2 separate regions of the Homo sapiens genome follow, and region 1 is linked to region 2. The links come from fine-mapping of genetic effects on gene expression. A gene starts in region 2. The other region holds a variant in brackets. All regions are shown on one strand. Distances are between the middles of the regions.

Region 1 (9,442 bases), 300 kb after region 2:
GGTCTTAGCTCAATGTCACCTTAGAAGAGCTTTCTGATGCCACATTCTAAATTAGCACCCCCTCCTCAGTTCCGCTCGGCCACAGTACACAGGTTCTTTCTTTCACTGCACGCACTGCATGCTCCCTTTAAAGAGTTATTTTACTTTTTGTTACGTCTCCCCACAACTTCAGTGTAAGGTCTGTGAGTCCAGGGACCTTGTCTGTCTTGTTCAGTTTTCCCCAGGACCCAGCAAAGCCCTTGGCGCATGTAGGTGTCATAAGTGTTTATCACATGCAAAATGAAGTGCCAGAGCCAATATTTGACCTCAGTCTTTGTGACTCCAAAACTTCAGCCCTTTCTCATACCTTTTTGCTCCCAGGGCAGCAACCTGGTGTTGGTGGCAAGGGTGCTTGAGAGTCAGATTTGGCTTCTGCAGCCACTTTGGAAGTGCCATTGGGCAATTCCTTTCTTCTCTCTGGGCCTCAGTTTACCCATCTATTCTAAGATGCAATATTGTTGATGCTCTGAGCCACAGGGACCGTGCCAGGGAAGGGAACAGAAGCAGATGGTTCTATGTCCAGCAGGGGGCGCAATGGGCTCGCTCAACTTCTTTCTCCGCATGGGTCGACGGCCTGGCTCTCCAGTTCTGAGTGTCAGGGTGCCTTCTTGTCCACACACACTCTACCATCTCCTGTCACTGCCACCAAATACCAGGGAGGGGTTTCTTTTTTTCTTCCATAATTTTTACCTTTTAAAGTTGTGGGGCGGCTGGGCATGGTGGCTCACGCCTGTAATCCCAGCACTTTAGGAGGCTGAAGCTGGTAGATCACGAGGTCAAGAGATTGAGAGAAGCTTGGCCAACATGGTGAAACCCCGTCTCTACTAAAAATAGAAAAATTAGCCAGGCGTGGTGTCATGCGCCTGGAATCCCAGCTACCCAGGAGGCTGAGGCAGGAGAATCGCTGGAACCCGGGAGGCAGAGGCTGTAGTGAGCCGAGATCGTGCCACTGCACTCCAGCCTGGGCAACAGAGCAAGACTCCATATCAAAAAATAAAAAATAAAAAAAGTTATGGGGCTTTTTTGTTTTGTTTTTTTTTTTGTTTTTTGAGACAGAGTCTCACTCTGTCACCCAGGCTGGAGTGCAATGGCATGATCTCAGCTCACTGCAACCTCCGCCTAATGGGTTCAAGTGATTCTCTTGCCTCAGCCTCCCGAGTAGCTGGGATTACAGGCTCACGCCACCATGCCCGGCTAATTTTTGTATTTTTAGTGGAGACGGGGTTTCACCATGTTGGCCAGGCTGCTATCGAACTCCTGACCTCAGGTGATCCACACACCTCGGCCTCCCAAAATCCTGGGATTACAGGCTTGAGCCACCGTGCCTGGCCTATTATAGATTTAGACTTAGAGAAAAGTTTTGAAGATCCTACAAAGTTCCCACAGACCCCACAGCCATTTCCACCTGTTACCAACATCTTACACTTACATGATACATTTGTCACAATTAATGAGTCAATGTTGATACAGTATTATCAACTGAAGTCCATACTTTATTCAGACTTCCTCATTACCTTGCATCCTTTTTCTGCTCTAGTATATTACATTCTATTTCATCATTATGTTTCCTTAGGTTTCTCAGATTTTCCTTTTTGTTTTGTTTTTGTGGCAGGGTCTTGCTCTGTTGCCCAGGCTGGAGTGCAGTGATGTGACCATAGCTCATTGCAGTCTCTAACTCCTGGGCTTAAGCAATCCTCCCACTTCAACCTCTCAAGTAGACGGAACTACAGGTGCATGCCACCACGCCCAGCTAATTTTTGTTTGTAGAGATTGGGTCTTGCTTTGTTGCCCAGGCTGGTATTGAACTCATGGGCTCAGGCCGTCCTCCCACCTCGTCCTCCCAAAATTCTGGGATTATAGGCATGAGCTGCCACAATTGTGTGGCCAGACTTTCCTTTTTTTTTTTTTTTAATGACCCCAGGGAGGTTTTTATATGGGACTCCAATGCATGTCTTGAGCTCATGGTCACTTAAGATTCCCTCTGGGGAACTTAGGAACACATTTTTACAGTAGAAACTGATGAGTCTAATGAAACCCTTTGACTGAACTTCAGAAGTGTCCTCTCAGCCATGTGCACCTGCAATCCCAGTATTTTGGGAGGATGAGGCAGGAGGATCACTTGAGCCCAGGAGTTTGAGTCCAGCAATATAGTGAACATTGCCAACAAAGAAAGAAAGAAAGAGAGAAAGAGAGAAAGAGAGAAAGATTCCTTTCAAGAAGACATTTTGAGTGTGTCTGTTATGTGCCAGTCCTGTGCTCCATGCCAGGGTCCTCCTGGGGCTGACAATCCAGTTATTTTGTCCAAGTTGGAGAACAGATGCACAAGGAAGGCAGAGGGCAAAACTCCACCCTCCTTTTCCACCCAAGGACCCATCCAAGTTGGAAAAATAGTGACAGGTCCCTAGGAGTGTCTTCCTTCCCATGGGACTGTCTGAAGGGCATGGCCCCAGAGCTGGAGGATTTGGAATAAAAGGAGGCTTAGGGGCTTTCTCAGGTTGTGCCCTCAGTTCCTGGAACCCAGCCTCTGTACTTCACTGGGGAAGCCTTTGAGGTCACCGTTGCCTTCTAATTCAATTGAATAACTTAAGTCAATTCTGTGCTTCTCTGCTTATAAATGGACACTATCAAGTTCTAACAGCATCTTTGGGAGATAAGTACCATGTTTGTCAGCCCTGCTTCACTTGTGGAGAAACTGAGCCTCAAGTCCCATTTGGCAAATAATTGGTGGAGATGAGATTTGAATCCAGGGTTCGCTCTGTCGCCTAGGCTGGAGTACAGTGGTGCAGTCTTGGCTCACTGCAACCTCCACCTCCCAGGCTCAAGAGATTCTCCAGCCTCAGGCTCTCATGTAGCTGGGACTACAAGTGTGCACCACACCCAGATAATTTTTGTATTTTTTGTAAAGATGGGATTTCACCATGTTTCCCAGGCTGATCTCAAACTCCTGGGCTCAAGCAATCCTCCTGCCTTGTCCTCCCAAGGTGCTGGGATTACAGGCGTGACCCACTGTGCCCAGCCCATCTCCTCATTTTCATTTGCCCCTCACCCTACCTTGTGGCTGTTTGGGCTTCAAGCTTGGAGGAAAACAGCATTTTTGGAAACTTTTTTCTCTTGACTTACTGAGTTATATTCTGCTCAGCTCTACTTTACAGACCTGGAGAGCAAAAAGAAGGGGTTTCTCACCCCACACTTGGGAGAGAGGACCCTGCTCCAGCCCACATTTGCCCTTCTTGAGTAATCTGGGATGAGATGATTTGGGATGGGTGGTGATTCACTGGCTCTGCCAGCAGAGAAAACAGCCCAGGGCTGGGATGCAGATGCTCTGGGTATGTTGCCCATCCACCCATGCCTGTCATCAATTGTGGGAACAAATAACTTTTTACCTGTGGTCCTCAGTTTCTTCATCAGTGAGATGGGCTAATATGCCTGCCCAGAAGAATTGTTGCAGCAAATAAGAGAGGTAAAAGTGTGTGTCAGCTGAAAGCCCTGTGCAAGGATAACAGACGTGGTTATAATTTCCAGTGAGTCGATCCAGGGCCCCACAAGGAAGTTGCTTCCCTGAAGGACCAGGTGAAGAAAGAACTTGTGAGCAGAAGCTTCAAACCCATGCCCAGACCCAACATCAAATTGAATCCTCATGTCCACTCCTAGGCCCTCTGTCCCCTCCCACACCACGAGCACTGCAAGCCTGGCGCAGAGAGGAGATGCCAGTATTCTCTAGTACTGGACGCCAAGCACCTTGAGGGCAAGACATAACATCTGTTTCAGCCCTAAACTTTCCAGCTTCTAGCACAGTATGGGCCACACAATGTACATGTGGACGTTGAGTGAAAGAATGAATGAATGAGTGAATGAATGAATGAATTCACAAGTGGATGAAGAAATGCTGGGGCCATAAACAGGTCCAGCTTTTACCTCCTGGCCCCCAGGCTCCCATCCAAGCCTCCCAAACTTATCCTCCACCCTTCCTTTTACACAGCAGCGCATGACACCAGAGGTACCAAAAAGGCAAACTGGACTTTATTATAAAGTTGGCTACAAAGTCACCGCAGCACCACGAGGTGGCCATCTGGGCAGGCCCAGGCAGTCTGGCGGCCGGGTGAGTCCCGCACCAGGTACACGCACTCGTGCAAGCACACGTGTGACGGCAGGTCTGCCTTCCTCCATCGGAAAGGAACGTAGCGTCTCTTCGCACCCCCCACCCCAGGCGCGGGGCGCAAAAGTCACAGGAAGGGCCGCCAGGGCGGCAGAGTCCATCGGAATTGAAATCCCGTTACTGGTGTGTAGAGAATTCTACGTGGGTGTCAAGAGCCCCTCAGGGCACGGGCTGGCCCGGGTGGGCCCTGCCTTTCCCCCACCAAGGCTAGGGGTGGCTTGGCCCCTAGGAGTGGAGAACTGGCCCAGGCCAATGGGGCAAGGCGGCGGGGAAGTGAGACTCCCCCATTCTCCGCTTGAAATCCCATTCAAGGAAACTCACTACGAGTGAATACAGATTGAAATGGAAACTGGGATCGCTCGAAGTCTCTTGATTTTAAAAAGAAGCTCCCCTCCCTTGCCCTCCCACCTCCCCCCCCCCAAAATCCTGCAGGGCCTGGGGAATCATATATATCCCCCTCTGGCCCTCAGAATCCCCCCAACAGTCCCGGGGGGGTGGAGAGCGGCTCCACGTCTTGATGACAATATGCCATACTTGACGACGTTAAGTCACAGACTTATTCAAAACGTTGGTTCCCCTCCACTTCCATCTGCAGAGAGATAGATAGAGAGAACACAATCAGTTAGACCAATTAGCACAGAGGATCCTGGGGCTGAGAATGTGTTGGTATTAGTATAGGCTTCAAAGATATTGGCTCAATGATGAAATGATGGCCAGAGGCTCAGTAGATTAGGGGGCAATTTGGATGGA[C/T]GGAGTGAAACTGTGGCTGTAGTTTAGGAAGGATGGGGCTGTAACCAGGGAGCTACCTCAATGGAGTCAGGGGCTGAGCCTCGTCTTTCTTTTACCAACTTGCATAAATTCTTGCTCTGTATCCCCTTCAGGGAGCTAGGATACTAGGATAGAGCTCTAGTCCCTCTTCCATCAGTTTGTTGTGCACCCTAAGGAAAGTCTGTTTAACTCTGGGACCTTGATTATTTTCATCTGTAAAATGGGGTGCTGAAGACTGATCTAGGCCTCTCATGGAGTTAAGCACAAGCCCTTACTTAAGAATTCCCTAGCACTCTATCCCACAGCCCCAACCCCTGCCAAGTCTGCTTGTTCAAACTTTCATATTAAGTCTTTCATTTTTTCTTATCTCCACTGCTACTCTCTTCAGCAGGGGATGTCATCCCCTTAATAAAATCAATGTACAGAGAGGGGGAATTGATTTGCCTAAATCTACCCAGCATTTCATTGGCAGGACAGGGACTTGAGTTCTTGGACCTTTTGGCTGACTCACCTTCATGGAAGCTGTCTTGAACTTGGCTCTGGAGTTGATGCAACTCATCAGTAAACCCATCATAGGGGAATGCTGAGACACCTGTCTCAAAGGCGGTTTCATATGTGGCCAGGTCCTCCAGGAAGCTGTGGTCTTCTGGGGACAGGTTGTTGCAAGGCGATGGGGCCCCTCCTGGGCCCTCTGCCTCAGGATCCCCTGAGCCCCATTCCTCACTGGGATCTGGGGTAGAGAGATCCATGAAGATGTCTTCCACGGGCGTCTCTTCCAGGAACATGTTATCAGGGTCAGCCAGGAAGTCCAGCTCCTGGCATTTCCAGGGTTTCAGGTCCAGGCTGAGCACAGGGGGGCCTGCCCCTGACAGGGACAGGTTGGAGTCCAGGGGCTCCAGTCCTCCAAGTGGCTCTAGTCCGCCAGTGCCAGCCTCAGCTGAGAAGGGTCTGTCCATGCCCTGAGCCAATTGGCTAATCTGCTGGATGAGACGGTCTATCTCATTCTGCTCCTTTTCAGAGTAGTGGAAGAAACTCTGCTTGACTGGAGAGGCCTCAGGTGTGAGCAGGCCTTCGGGCACCAGGGGGACATCCACAGAGAGGGGGCCCCGGAGCTGGGCTAGGGCCAAGAGCGTGCAGTCCCCATTACCAGGGCTGCTAGGACTTGGGGGCAACTTCTCATAGAGAAAACTGCATCCCTCCTGGGCAAAGTAAGTCTTGGTAGGGTTGGGGCTCAGTTGCTCTGGGAAGGTTTGGCTGGGGCTGTCCAGGTGTGCTTGGAATGCTGTGCTGGGAGGAGTCAGCTGTTCATGGGCAGGGCTGCCCAGAGGCTCTGGGAAGGTGGCTGTGCTGGGAAGCAGCTGGTCTGGGAAGGTGGAGGTGCAGGGAGTCAACTGGTCTTCATAGCTTCTGACCGAGGTTTCAGTCAACTGGCCTTGCAGTGGGCTAGTTAGTGGATCTGGGAAGGTTGCACTGCTGGGCGTCAACTGATCAGAGAAGGTCGCAGTGCTTGGAGTCAGCTGTTCTTGAAGAGTGCTGGATGGGGTGGGCAAATGGGTCTGGAAGGGCTCATGGAGGCTGAAGAGGAAGGCACAGCCTCCTGGCTGATGGGGCGTGTAAGGTGGAGTGCACACAAGATCCTTGCTTAGTTCTGCTTGGAGAGAAGGCTCAGGCCCAGAAGGGAATGTCAGGTAACTGAAGTCCAGTTCTTTGGAGGGTCGGGGAAGCTCTTCTGATGCAGAGACAACACTCAGTTCAGGAGCACTGGGGAAGCTGGTGCTTCTGGGAGCCCCCAGTGCTGCGGTGAAGAGTGGGTTAGTGCTGGAGCACTCTTCCTGGGAAAGAATGTTTTCAGGGAATGAGGGCAGCATGGTCGGAGTGCCCAGGACATAAGCTGCCTGGGTGTCTTCAGAGTTCAACTGCTGGCGGAGGCTCCAGGCTTCCATGTCACTGGAGAGGAGAGAAGAGGCAGCTGGTAAGGGTCCGACGTCCATATCCAGAGCAGTTCCCTGATTTGTGTCTCCTCCATGACGACCTCAGCTGCCCCCTAGTCCCCTGGCTTGTGGCTTACCTGATTGGGTAGTTATTGGCAGTAATGGGTCCCTCTGGACCTTCTGAGTATAACAGGCAGTAAATCCATGCCCAGCCTCCAGTCTTGGCCTGTAGCCTCACCACCATCTCTGCCTGAATATCTCCACTCTCAGCCACTGGGGAGAAAGAAGATGCAGAGTTAGGATGTCCACCAGGCAATTCTACCTACTCCCCACCCTTGGTCACCTCTCCACTGAATTGAGATAGCCGTGACATCCTCTCTTCTGACTACCCTCACCTGAACCACTCAGCTCTCTACCTTGACCTCACCACTCAGAGTCCCCCAGTTCTGATTTGATTATTGCCTTGAATCCTCACCTTCATGTTCACCCTATAGCATCCGAAACTGTTGGCCTCTGTTATCTCCCCAGCATCACTCTTGACTACAGATCATTCTTTGTCTGGTCTCCCATGCCCTTTCCCAGCTTGCTATCTTGTCCCCAGCCTCTCTGGACACTCACACAGGCGGTAGTGTTGAGCAGAAGCGTGGGCCAGGTCCTCGGGGTGCAGCAGTCCATACCATGATTTACAAAGCAGTTCACTGCGCTCAAAGCCCAGGTAGATTAGGACACTGGGAAGGTGGAAAGGGTGAGGTCAGCTTTCTGTTTTCCTTGCTTGATACCCATGCATCTCACTCCCTCCCAGATCCTCTGCCCCCCTAAACCCCATCCTCCCTGCCCCTGACTCCAGAATCTAGGGTCCCTTCATCTCTGGCCTGCCTTTCTCTTGGAATCTGAACACTCCAGGCTTACCTCTCGGAGATGTCCAGTAGAGCCAGGTCTTTAGCATGGCGGCTCTGGAACATGGCCAGGAAGAGCGAGGCAGGGCCAGGGCCAGGGCCAGGACCTGGGCGGGGTCTCGGCTCCAGAGGGGCACAGAAAGCTGTGAACACGGGATTTCCTGCCCAGTAGGCTCCAGGTGGGTGAGCATGGAATCGGCCTCGAATAAGCACGAGTTTGTTGCCTGCACTCTGGCGCCTGAGGGACTTGGAGGTGTTGAAGCGGCAGCGGAAGAGGCGATCTAGATAGATGAAGAGAAAAACAGATAAGAGGGTGAGTGGCTGAGAGAGAGACAGTGGATGGTGGGGAGAAGGGCAGCAGGTGGGAAATTGGACCGAGGAAGGGAGAAGGGAGTCCTTACCAGTGTCCAGGGCAGAGGGCAGGGTGAGTTGCTGGCGCACAGTGAGGTGGTCAGCTGGGTCAATGATGTCGTAGATGCTGTCACCCTGGGCAACCAGGTCCACCTGGAGGGAGGAAAAGAAGAGATGACCATTAGGGAGAACAGCAGGAGCCAATCTTTGATCTACAGTATCTTGTAGGGTATAACCTCTCCCTCCATAGTAATTCCCAGTTCCTCAGGAGTGGAAGGCTCACGGCACCCACTCCATGCCCAGCCTCAGCTGAAAGGACCCTTAGCACTCACCATGGAGTGGCCCAGATGCTCGCTCACACTCTCAGACAGGTAGAGCAATTTCCCCTCGGCTGTGAACACAAGCAGAAAGCCGGGTAGTGCCGCTACGATGTCCTCAAGCTCTTGAGCTGAGAGAAGCCCCGTGGGGCCCGCCAGAGGAGTGCCTGTAGGGCGAGAAGACGTAGTGCGTCAGGAGTAAGACTGGGAGGCAGAGAAGAAGTGAGGAAGGCATGGTCTGAGTTTCAGAGAATCCAGAGGAATTTCTCATGGACCTGCCTCTGCAAACACCTGTTGACCCGCTGCCCGCAGCTCTTGGCCAGGGAACCTGTTGCTGTATCTCCATAGCCCACAAGCCCTCGACTTCTAAAGCGGGGTCGGCTCCTCTCGGCTCTTAATTTCAGAACCGCGGACAGAGCTCCAAAGCGGCTCTGAATTTCAGAACCGCGGACAGAGCTCCGAAGCCGACTGTGGGTTCAGAACCATGGACAGAGCCATACACGGCCGGCGCAGCCGTCAGCACCATGGGCAGCGCCCCGAAGGCGACAGGAGATCCCTTTCAGCACCGCGGACAGTAGCTATGTTCCCCTAGGCTCAGGCAGCTCCATCCCTGCAACTTCCCGGGCTTCCCTCCCCGGCTCCCGGAGCGCTTCTGCACTGGCGGGCACCGAGGCCGCTCTGTCCTGGCTCTTATCCTCTCATAATCTGGTGTTAGGGACACCGTCCAGGCTCTCTAACTCTCATTCAGAACTAAGGTGAGGTCTGGAGGGAGCTCAGGAGGAAAAGTAGAAAGTCCCGAATCTCCCGAGTCCCGAATCTCCCCAGCTCGCCAGCACGCTGCCCTAGACATGCGACAGCCCCAGCGGGTTCCCTCAGCTCCAGGGTCTCCGGCGCCTGGCAGCTCGGATCTGCGGTAGCCCCAGCATGCTCACCACCAGCGAAGAAGACGCCCTTGCGAGTGTAGATGCAGGCGAGGCTCATGAT
Region 2 (9,442 bases):
CAATAGGATAATTTTTTTTTTTTTTTTTTTTTTTGAGACGGAGTCTCTCTCTGTCGCCCAGGCCAGACTGCGGACTGCAGTGGCGCAATCTCGGCTCACTGCAAGCTCTGCTTCCCGGGTTCACGCCATTCTCCTGCCTCAGCCTCCCGAGTAGCTGGGACTACAGGCGCCTGCCACCGCGCCCGGCTAATTTTTTGTATTTTTAGTAGAGACGGGGTTTCACCTTGTTAGCCAGGTGCAATAGGATTATTGACAACCTTGTTGAAAGCAGCTTTAGAGTGGAAGTTCTGTTGCATTGGATTAAGTCAATTGTATCAATGCTCATCTATCCCCTTCAATTACCATCTATTTCTACACTGATGTATTCCAAATGGGTATCTTAAGTCCAGACCTCCCCTTTAAAGTCCACGCCCATATACAATTGACTACTCAATATCTCCACTTGATTGGTTCAAAGATACCTCAAACCTAGGTTCCAAAACCAACAATCTCTCCACCCAAACCTGGTTTTCCTGGAGTATTCCTCATCTCAGCAAATAGTAGCTCCATTATTCCAGTTGCACAACTCATCCTTGACTAACCCTTTTTCCTCACCACCACCCCTGTATCTATCCCATCACCACATCTGGTTAATTCTTTCAACCTGTGCACTCCATCTCCACTGCCAGCAACTGAGTTCAAGCTACCATCTTCTCTGTCACCCTACCCACAGTGGTAGCCTCCTAACTGGTTTCTCACACATCTTTGCACCCCTCCATAGCAACTGGAGTAACCTATTCCCCCCATAGCAGCTACAGTGACCTTTTTAAAATACAAAGTTGATCCTATCACTTCCTTATTTCAACCTTTCAATAGTCTCTCAGGGCTCTAAAGGTGAAAATCAAAATTCTTTAAATAATGACATAAAAAGCTCTGCATGATCTAGCCCTTGCCTATCTCCCCAGTCGCAATTCTCTACACATTCCCTCTTCCCCTCTGTTTTCCCTGCACCCTGGTCTTTTCTCCATTTCTTTTGTATTGTTTTTTTTTTTTTTTTTGGTTGGTTGGTTTTTTGAAAAAGAGTCTCACTCTGTCCCCCAGGCTGGAGTGCAGTGGCACAATCTCAGCTCACTGTAGCCTCCGTCTCCTGGGCTCAAGAGATTGTCCTGCCTCAGCCTCCCGAGTAGCTGGGATTACAGGCACTTGCCACCACGCCCGGCTAATTCTTGTATTTTTAGTAGAGATGAGGTTTCACCATGTTGGCCAGGCTAGTCTCGAACTCCTGACCTCAGGTGATCCACCTGCCTCAGCCTCCCAAAGTGCTGGGATTACAGGCGTGAGCCACCGCGCGCAGCCTCTTTTCTCCATTTTTTTTTTTTTTTTTTTTTGAGAGACAGAGTCTTGCTCTGTTGCCCAGGCTGGAGTGTAGTGGAATGATCTCAGCTCACTGCAACCTCTGCCTCCCGGGTTCAAGCAATTCTCCTGCCTCAGCCTCCCGAGTAGCTGGGATTACAGGCGCATGCCACCACGCCCAGCTAATTTTTTTGTATTTTTAGTAGAAAAGGGGTTTCACTGTGTTAGCCAGGATGGTCTCAATCTCCTGACCTTGTGATCCGCTTACTTTGGCCTCCCAAAGTGCTGGGATTACAAAGTCGTGAGCCACTGCACCCGGCCTCTTTTCTCCATTTCCTATGTACACCATGTGTCCTGCAACATCAGGCCTGTTAGCCATATGCTCTGTGGCTAAGAACATGGGTTCAAGGGTCAGATTGGGTTAAAATCCCAGCTCTACCCTTGCCTGGTTTGATGACCCTGAGTAAGGTACTTAATCTCTCAATGTCTCCATTTCCTCATCTGTGAAATGGGGTTAATACTTACCTCTTGGAGTTGTTATAAAGGATTAAATGAAATGTTATGTGTAAAGTATTAGAAATACAGTTCCACGTTAATGTTAGTAACAGCTATTATTATTCCCCACTCTGTCTGGTTAATGCTTCTCATATTTCAGATCTCAGCTCAGGTGATCTGAGGTTATGACTCTGTTCAGTTCTCTCTTAACATCCTGAACTTTTCATTCATAACACTCATTATACTTTGTGGTTATATATCTGATGGGTTATTTTATTAATGTCTGTCAATCCCACCACAGGCTCTTCCAAGAGAAAACAGACAGTATCCATTTTACTCATCATTATATCCCCAGATCCCAGCACAGTGCCTGGTATATAATTAGCCATATAGTTTTTGCATAAATATTTGATTGAGCAGGGGCGAGGAAGTGAAGCCAATGAGTGCAAATGACTCAGGAAGACTGTGAACATAAAGAGCAAGGGGAATGCATGGAGGGAAGTCGGGGCTTCTTGATTATTTTTTAAGCTGGCAAATGCTTGAGCATGTTTAAATGCTGATGGGAAGGAACCAGCTGAGAGACAGCAGTGAGGGCCGTGAGGCTGCAGAAGGGGATGAGACTTAGCATAGGAGCCAGAAGAATCCATCTTAGGTGAAAAGAGGGACACCTCTTCCCTGGTATTGAAACAAGAACTGAGAATTCGGCTATGTATGTATGTTTGGTGGGCAGAGCCAAAACCTTTCCATGAATCTTGGTAATGTAAGCAGCAAATGTGGATTCACTGAGAAGCTCAACAAACTTGGTGGATATCATTCCATTCGCTTTTGCAACTCAAATAAGAAGGAACCAGATATTTTCTTCATCATTGACTGTACTGGTTCACTACAGAGCAAAATAACAAGTTTCCAAAGCAACCCAGTCACAGAGCTGAGATAGGTGATCTCAGTGTTCTCTTTATTCAATGTGCTTCCTCTCCAAATCGGGAAACAGTATGGGAAATAATACGGTAAAATCATAACGGCTGATACTGATTAAGTGCTTACTATGTGCTGCATATAATTCATTTACCTGCAATAATTCATTTGATGTTCCCCACATTATGGTGCCATTTTACATGTAAGGAAACTGAATCCTAGGGAGGTAACTTGCCCAAGGTCACATAGTCAGTGGGTGGCAGAACTATGTTTTAAACCCAAGGAGTCTGACTCCAAAATCAATGCTTTTAACCATTCTGCTATACTCCCTGTCTAGCAGAGAGGAAAGAACATATTAGGATTCAGAAGACCTGGAGTTTCTACCATGAACTAATTCTGTGAACTTGTACATTCACTTAGGTGTCTGAACATCAGTCTGTTCATCAATAGAATAAGAATGAGAATGTTTATCTTACAAGGCTTCTTGAAGGATTATGAAATGCTGAAAATAGGAAATTATAAAAGATATTATTTTGCTAATCATAAGACTTAATACCCTTGACTTCTAATTGGGTCACGATATTATAGGCTGTCATTGAGACCCTTAGTTCCCGTAACCAGTACAGCAGCAGCAGCTTGGTGGTTCCAGTTCCTTTGGCAGGGCAGCTGATTCTCTAATTTTTTTTTTTTTTTTTGGAGATGGAGTCTCGTTCTTGTTGCCCAGGCTGAAGTGCAGTGGCACAATCTCAGCTCACTGCAACCTCTGCCTCCCGGGTTCAAGCGATTCTCCTGCCTCAGCCTCCTGAGTAGCTGGGATTTCATGCCCACCACCACGCCTGGCTAATTTGTGTATTTTTAGTAGAGAAGGGGTTTCACCATGTTGGCCAGGCTGGTCTTGAACTCCTGACCTCGCGATCCACCTGCCTCGGCCTCCCAAAGTGCTGGGATTACAAGGGTGAGCCACTGCGCCTGGCCATGGGCAGCTGATTCTCATCCCATCAGCTTTAATGTCCCTGACCAAGTGTCCCTGATGACCGTCATGCACAGGTTGGTGCCTCCTTCCCCCGAACCAACCAACACATAATCCTACCTCTGGGAAGAGTTGCAGTTTATGCCCTTGTTTCTTTAATGCCATTGCCTGAAAGAGTGGCTATTAAAAATAATAAATAGCCTCAGGCCTGGCACGGCAGCTCACGTCTGTAATCCCAGCACTTTGGGAGGCTGAGGCAGGCAGATCACCTGAGGTCAGGAGTTCAAGAACAGCCTGGCCAACATGGCAAAACTCTGACTCTACTAAAGATACAAAAATTAGTCGGGCATGGTGGCATGCACCTGTAATCCCAGCTACTCGGGAGGCTGAGGCAGGAAAATTGCTTGAACCCGGGAAGAGGAGGTTGCAGTGAGCCGAGATCAAGCCACTGTACTCCAGCCTGGGTGACAGAGCACGACTCCGTCTCAAAATAATAATAATAATAAATAGCCTCAAATGCAGCTAACTGTGAGGTACACACCAGAGAGCCAGTTCCAGTTTCGTGGTAGAAGCACAGATATCAGAGCTAGGAGAGAACTTCAAAGTAATCTTTCAATGGAACTCCCCAACCCTCCTCCCAACCCATTTTATAGACTAGGAAAACCAAGGCGAGGTAGATGACACCACTAGTTAGGGTTGTCAAAACCATATCTGGAAAGTACTTCAATTGCACATATTTGTTTCAGTATGCATACCTTTTCAGAAAGGAGCAAAATCCTAAATTACCCATAAATCTATTATAAAACCTTAAATCCAATAATTCACTCAAAGCCCATTCTTTGAGTGCCCTTACTTGACCATTTCAGGCATTCCCTGGATAGAAACGGGCCCTCATCTTCAGGGGCAGTACATAACCTAACGGCTCTGTACAAAGCTCACCCTGTTACCACTGGCTCATCTCTGAGCTGAGTTCTCTAATCTGGAAGAACAGCACCTACTTCTCAGAGCTGGAGTGGGGGTGGGAGTGTCACATGAGATGATGCGCTTTTAGCACCCACCTGGCACTCTGTGAGTTTGTCATGATTTGGGCATAATTCCTTCCTCTCCTAAGCAGGCAGCAGTTCACCTTGGTTAAGGACCTTGGACCTTAGACCACTCAGACGCTAACAAACCAAGGAGAAACCCAGCCGTGTCAGGCCTAGAAATGTCTGCCCCCACCCCCACCCCCCTCAAGACGGTGACTAGGCCGGAATTCTCCTGGTTGATAAATGAGAGGAGCTGAGAAGCGCTGAGATGCCTGTTTGGAGCATCTGATCTGTAGAAGACGAATCTTCACTGTGCCATGGAGATGTTCTGGGAGGGAGAGCCGGCCCAGCTGCCTGAAGGAGGACGCGAGAGCGAGGGGACGGGTGAGAGGAATGCTTAGCGGAGACGGACTGGAGGTGCCCGGAGAGGAAAGGGGAACGGAGGCTGGATCTCGGGAAACCTCGTCGGCAGTGTCATTAGAGGAAGGATCGCGTGTCTCGGGGATACGGATTTTGGAGGAAAAGCAGAATAGGGACAAAGGTGAGGTGTCCGAACCGGGGAGATCAAGACCTGTAAGCTGTGGTGGGGGACCCAGGGACCAGCGAGGACGGGAAGGCGGGGTTTTGGGGGGACCCCGCACGGAAGGTGGCTGGGGGTCGGCAGCCGGCCTCGGAGCTGCTGCCGCGTTCGCCCCGAGGCAGGTCAACTACCCCGGGCGGGGAGCGGCGGGGAGCACCGAGAGGGGCCTCGGTTGCCATGGCGCTGGGCGGGGAAGGGGCGACTCGGGCCCCGCCCAGAGCCCCGCGGGGCCGCCGGCTCCAGATGGTCCCGGGCCTCCCGCGGGAGCCGGCGGCCTGCGGCAGGGGGAGGCTATTGTCCTCCTTCCGCGGCGCCGCAGTCCCGCCGCTCGCGCCCGCGCGCCGCCGCCACGCGCCCCGCCGCCGCCCGCCCCGCGCGCCCCCCGCGCCGCCTGCGCCCCGTGACAGCGCCCGCCCGCCGCCCGCCGTGCGCCCGGCCGCTGCCTGCAACCGCCCGTCGCGGCCGGGCTGCAGGCGCGGCAACTACCGGTGCGCCCCCGCCCGCCGCGCCCCCGCCCGCCCGGCCGCGGCTCCGCGCCGAGGTAGGTGCCGGCGCCCCGCCCGCTTTGTCCCGGCCCGCGGGGCGGCGCGCTTTGTCCGGCCGCGTGCGGTCGGCGGGGTCGGGGTCGGGGTCGGGGTCGGGTCCCGGCGGCCGGGGTGAGCCGGGGCGGGAGCAGGCGGGGACGGGACGGAGAGGGTCCCGTGCCAGCCACACAGGTACCGGGATGAGGGCGGTGGGGGCCAAGGCCGAGGGGGGGGGACTCGGGCCTCTCTGGAGCCGGGAGAAGAGTCTGGAACAGTTAGGGCTGACGGACACGTTCGCGGCGAGGCTGGGAGCGGGTCTGACAGCGCCGGCCCCTCGCGTCGCCGGGGCTGCGGGGCGGACGGGCCGGCGCCGGGCCAGGTGCTGGGGGCGCGCTCGGCCGCCTCTGCCCGGCGGACTGCGGGAGCCGGGCTCCCTCCTCCCCGGAGCCGCGTGGGCTCCTCCTCGCCTCTTTGGCAGCTGGCTCCACGCGCTCCCTTCTGTTCCCCCACAGTGTGTGGGAGAGGGGCACGCGGTTGGCTGTGGTGGCCGGAACTGGCCCGGGGAGAAAGCAGACGCTTCGGGCGGCGGGGAAGCGGCCGCGTGCGGCGTTTCTGTGGCCAGGAAGCTGATAGGGCTGTGCGGTCCGCCCCGCACGGAACTACCCAGCAAGGCCTGCTCGCGGGGGTGTTCCGGCTCCGGTGCCACAGTCGTGATTTACCTTCCACTCGCTTGGAACTTTACCCCATTGACCCCAGGACATTGCATGCTTGTGTGAGGTGCAGGTTTGCCCCGGTCTTAACCTGCTACATGTCGTCTGCCCTCCCCCTCTCGGAGCAGCCACAGTTCCAACGCTGGAGAGCCCGGGGGTTTCAGGTATGGGCAGAGGTAGCAACAAACCAGTTTTCCTTGAAGGTGAAGAGGGGCAGAGTGAGTTCCAAATATGTGTCTTAGCTTGAGGTGTGGGGCAACCTCTTGGCTTATTCAGAAAGGCAAAGGATTGGCCGAGGAGAAGATAGGATGGAGTTTACATTCTTCCCTTAGAGAAATTGATGTGACCCCGGGTTGGGGAAGGGAGATAGCAAGGGAGTGAAGAATCTGAATATTTGAATAAATCTGCCATAACTGGAGGATTCTAGAAGAGAAAATAAAATTTCAGTCCCCCTCTTCAGCCCAGTTCCTAACTTCCTCCGAGGGAATTGATCAGGAACACAGTCTGAGAGGTGGGTCGGGGTTTTGCTGTTCCTTCCTTCTGCCCTGGGCCCATCTTTCTCTTGCCTTCCTGGAGGCCCTGAGCTGATTTGTGACTTCTTTTTCGTTTTATCTCTCTGCCAGTCCACCCATTTATACTTAGAAGCAAATAAGATTTGAACTTTGCCAAAGTCCCCATTTCTTCTAATCTATTATTCATCTCACTGTCATTTGTTCAACTCTGCCTTCCCGTGACTTCTCTAGCTCTGCCGTTCTCCTCCCGCATATCTGCGGTTCGCTGTGCTGTTTCTTTCATTACCTGTGGTACCTACTCCATCTTCATCTTCCTCTCCCATCGCCTGAGCTCCTGAGGGGAAGTGATATTTGAGTTTAGTGTGGGGTAGGGCCTGAGCAGACCTAGAAGCTAACCCTGGGTCACACTCACCCCTGAAACTTTGTGTCTTCTCAACACTCATGGCTCCTCTAACCAATTCCAGCTGCTTCTCATCTTTGGACAAGGGTGGCCCTCAAAGTGTGGTCCCCAGACCATTAGCTTCAGTGTCACCCGGGAACAGGTTAGAAATGCACATTCCCAGGTACCACCCCAGAAGTACTGAATCGTAAACTGGGGGATGGGGGGGTGACCTGTGATTTAACAGTCCTCCAGGTTGTTGTGATTCATGGAAGTTTGAGAATCCCCAGACCTGAGCTGTTGAGCTCAACCCTGAAAGTATTCCAGCCCAGGAGCAGGTCTTCTCCAATCCCGTGTTCATTCTTTCCTTGAGCTTCTCTCTAGTCCTAAGAAAGACATTAATTCCATGGCCAAAAAAAATGAATTATAGTCAAGTCATTCAATATCTCTTTATTGAATATCTGTTGTACTGAGTCTGGAAAAACACCAAAACGAGTAAGACAGCCCTTGTCCTCAATGAGTTAAATGTGGAGCGGGCAGAGAGACACGTAAACAACTAACCGTAATGCGATGTGATAAGTACAATACTAGCTGCATGCCGAAGTGCCCTGGAAGCACAGAGGAGGGAATGATCAACTCTGAGGGAGGGAAATAATTCATCAGGAGCAGGATGTGGTGAGAGGAAGAATTAGGATACAAGGCAGCCTGTAGCCCAGGGTATAGGATTTCTAGCTTAACATGTCAGCTGAAAGAGAGGAAAACTGCCCTGGAGGATCGGCACGGTGAGCCTAGTCTGCCTCCAGCAGCGCCTGGAGTACATTCCAGCAGGACCCCAAGCCTGCAGCCGGCGGGGGTTGGCATTCTTCTAGCACTAACAGTGTAAGCTACTTGGGCCTGGCCTTGAGGTCAATTGCTAAGAATAAGGTATGATGAGACTGTAATCTGGATTAGCTACTGCACCACCCTATTGCCAGACTTCAGGAATCTGTGGAAGAGAGGACGATTGAGGATTCTCCAGCTTCCTCATGACAGGGGGTCATGAAGCTGGGGGGCTGCTGGCCGACTGAGGAAATGTGAGCATGGAGACCCTGGTCATAGGTGAGGAATGATCTACTCAGTGGCAAGAAACCAGCGCTGGATATGTGTAGGAGAAAAGCAAATAGAAATCAGTGGGAATCTAGAGATGGCAGCAGGGGACACAAGCTGAGAACACAGCATATTGTCCAAAAGGCCAGGGAGCTACAGAGCCAGAATGCTTGGAAACCAAGACCTAGAGACACAAAGGTAGCAGAGCCTCAGAGCCACATGCTGAACAATGCCAGAGAGCACCATTCACATGGAAGGCTGTGGAGTTGCAACATGGTGGCCCTGTGGGGGTCTGTGATCTAAGGACACCAGTGCCAGCTTGGTTCCTGATCCATATCACAGCATTTCTGGAAACTCAGAACACACAGCATGCATGCTTCAAATTCAATTTGGAGAGAGGAGCATTTAAGTGGCTGAGGTTTTATTTGGGGGAAGAGGAGGTTCTAGCTCCATACTTTCTCCTGGTAATGGTAGGAATCCGCAGAGACATTCTAACAGTTGGACTTCCCTGGAGGGTCTGGCTCCCAGTTGGGCCCCTTTGTAACTTTAACAAAACCCCCAATTCTGCATTTCTCCTGAGCCCTACTTCCTACCACCAGGGCTGTGGTCTTGGCAGTCTCTGGTTCTGGAAAGGAAGGAGGTATGGAGAAGAGAGAAGTGATGGGTGGTGAGACTCGGGTAGGTAGGGAGGTGTGTGCCCATGGACACACAAAGGCAGAACCTTTCTGGCTTCCATCATTAACTGGTTCCATGAAGCTGAACCTGACCTGCTTGAAGGCCAGGGTTGTCTGCCCCTCCCCTTGGGAGGACCAAGTTGGATCCCCAAAGATAAGCCTAAGCAGTCCATGTTTAGGTTCTGTGCAGCTTACAGGGGCCTCAGAGCTACTGTGGTTTGGAGACAGGGTCAGATGGTT

The links. PIP is the estimated chance that this variant, and not a neighbour inherited with it, causes the effect. A credible set is the group of variants that fine-mapping cannot tell apart.
Region 1: its variant is the best candidate, but not a certain one, in a credible set for the expression of SPTBN2 in lung (TOPMed, PIP 0.53).

Annotation. Positions count from the first base shown.
Region 1 is chr11:66,421,303-66,430,744 of GRCh38, reverse strand. NPAS4 (neuronal PAS domain protein 4) reads right to left here. Exons shown (of 8, transcript NM_178864.4): 1 at 9,391-9,442; 2 at 8,474-8,625; 3 at 8,192-8,294; 4 at 7,804-8,071; 5 at 7,513-7,622; 6 at 7,032-7,167; 7 at 5,475-6,910; 8 at 4,038-4,784. The coding sequence ends at 4,756. Among named protein-coding and RNA genes, the nearest start is that of NPAS4, 5.0 kb to the right of the region's middle. RefSeq lists silencers at 8,833-9,127, 8,821-9,135 and an enhancer at 9,068-9,442. The variant C/T (reference allele first, on the strand shown) is at 4,946.
Region 2 is chr11:66,724,577-66,734,018 of GRCh38, reverse strand. SPTBN2 (spectrin beta, non-erythrocytic 2) reads left to right here and starts at 4,803. Exons shown (of 38, transcript NM_006946.4): 1 at 4,803-5,278.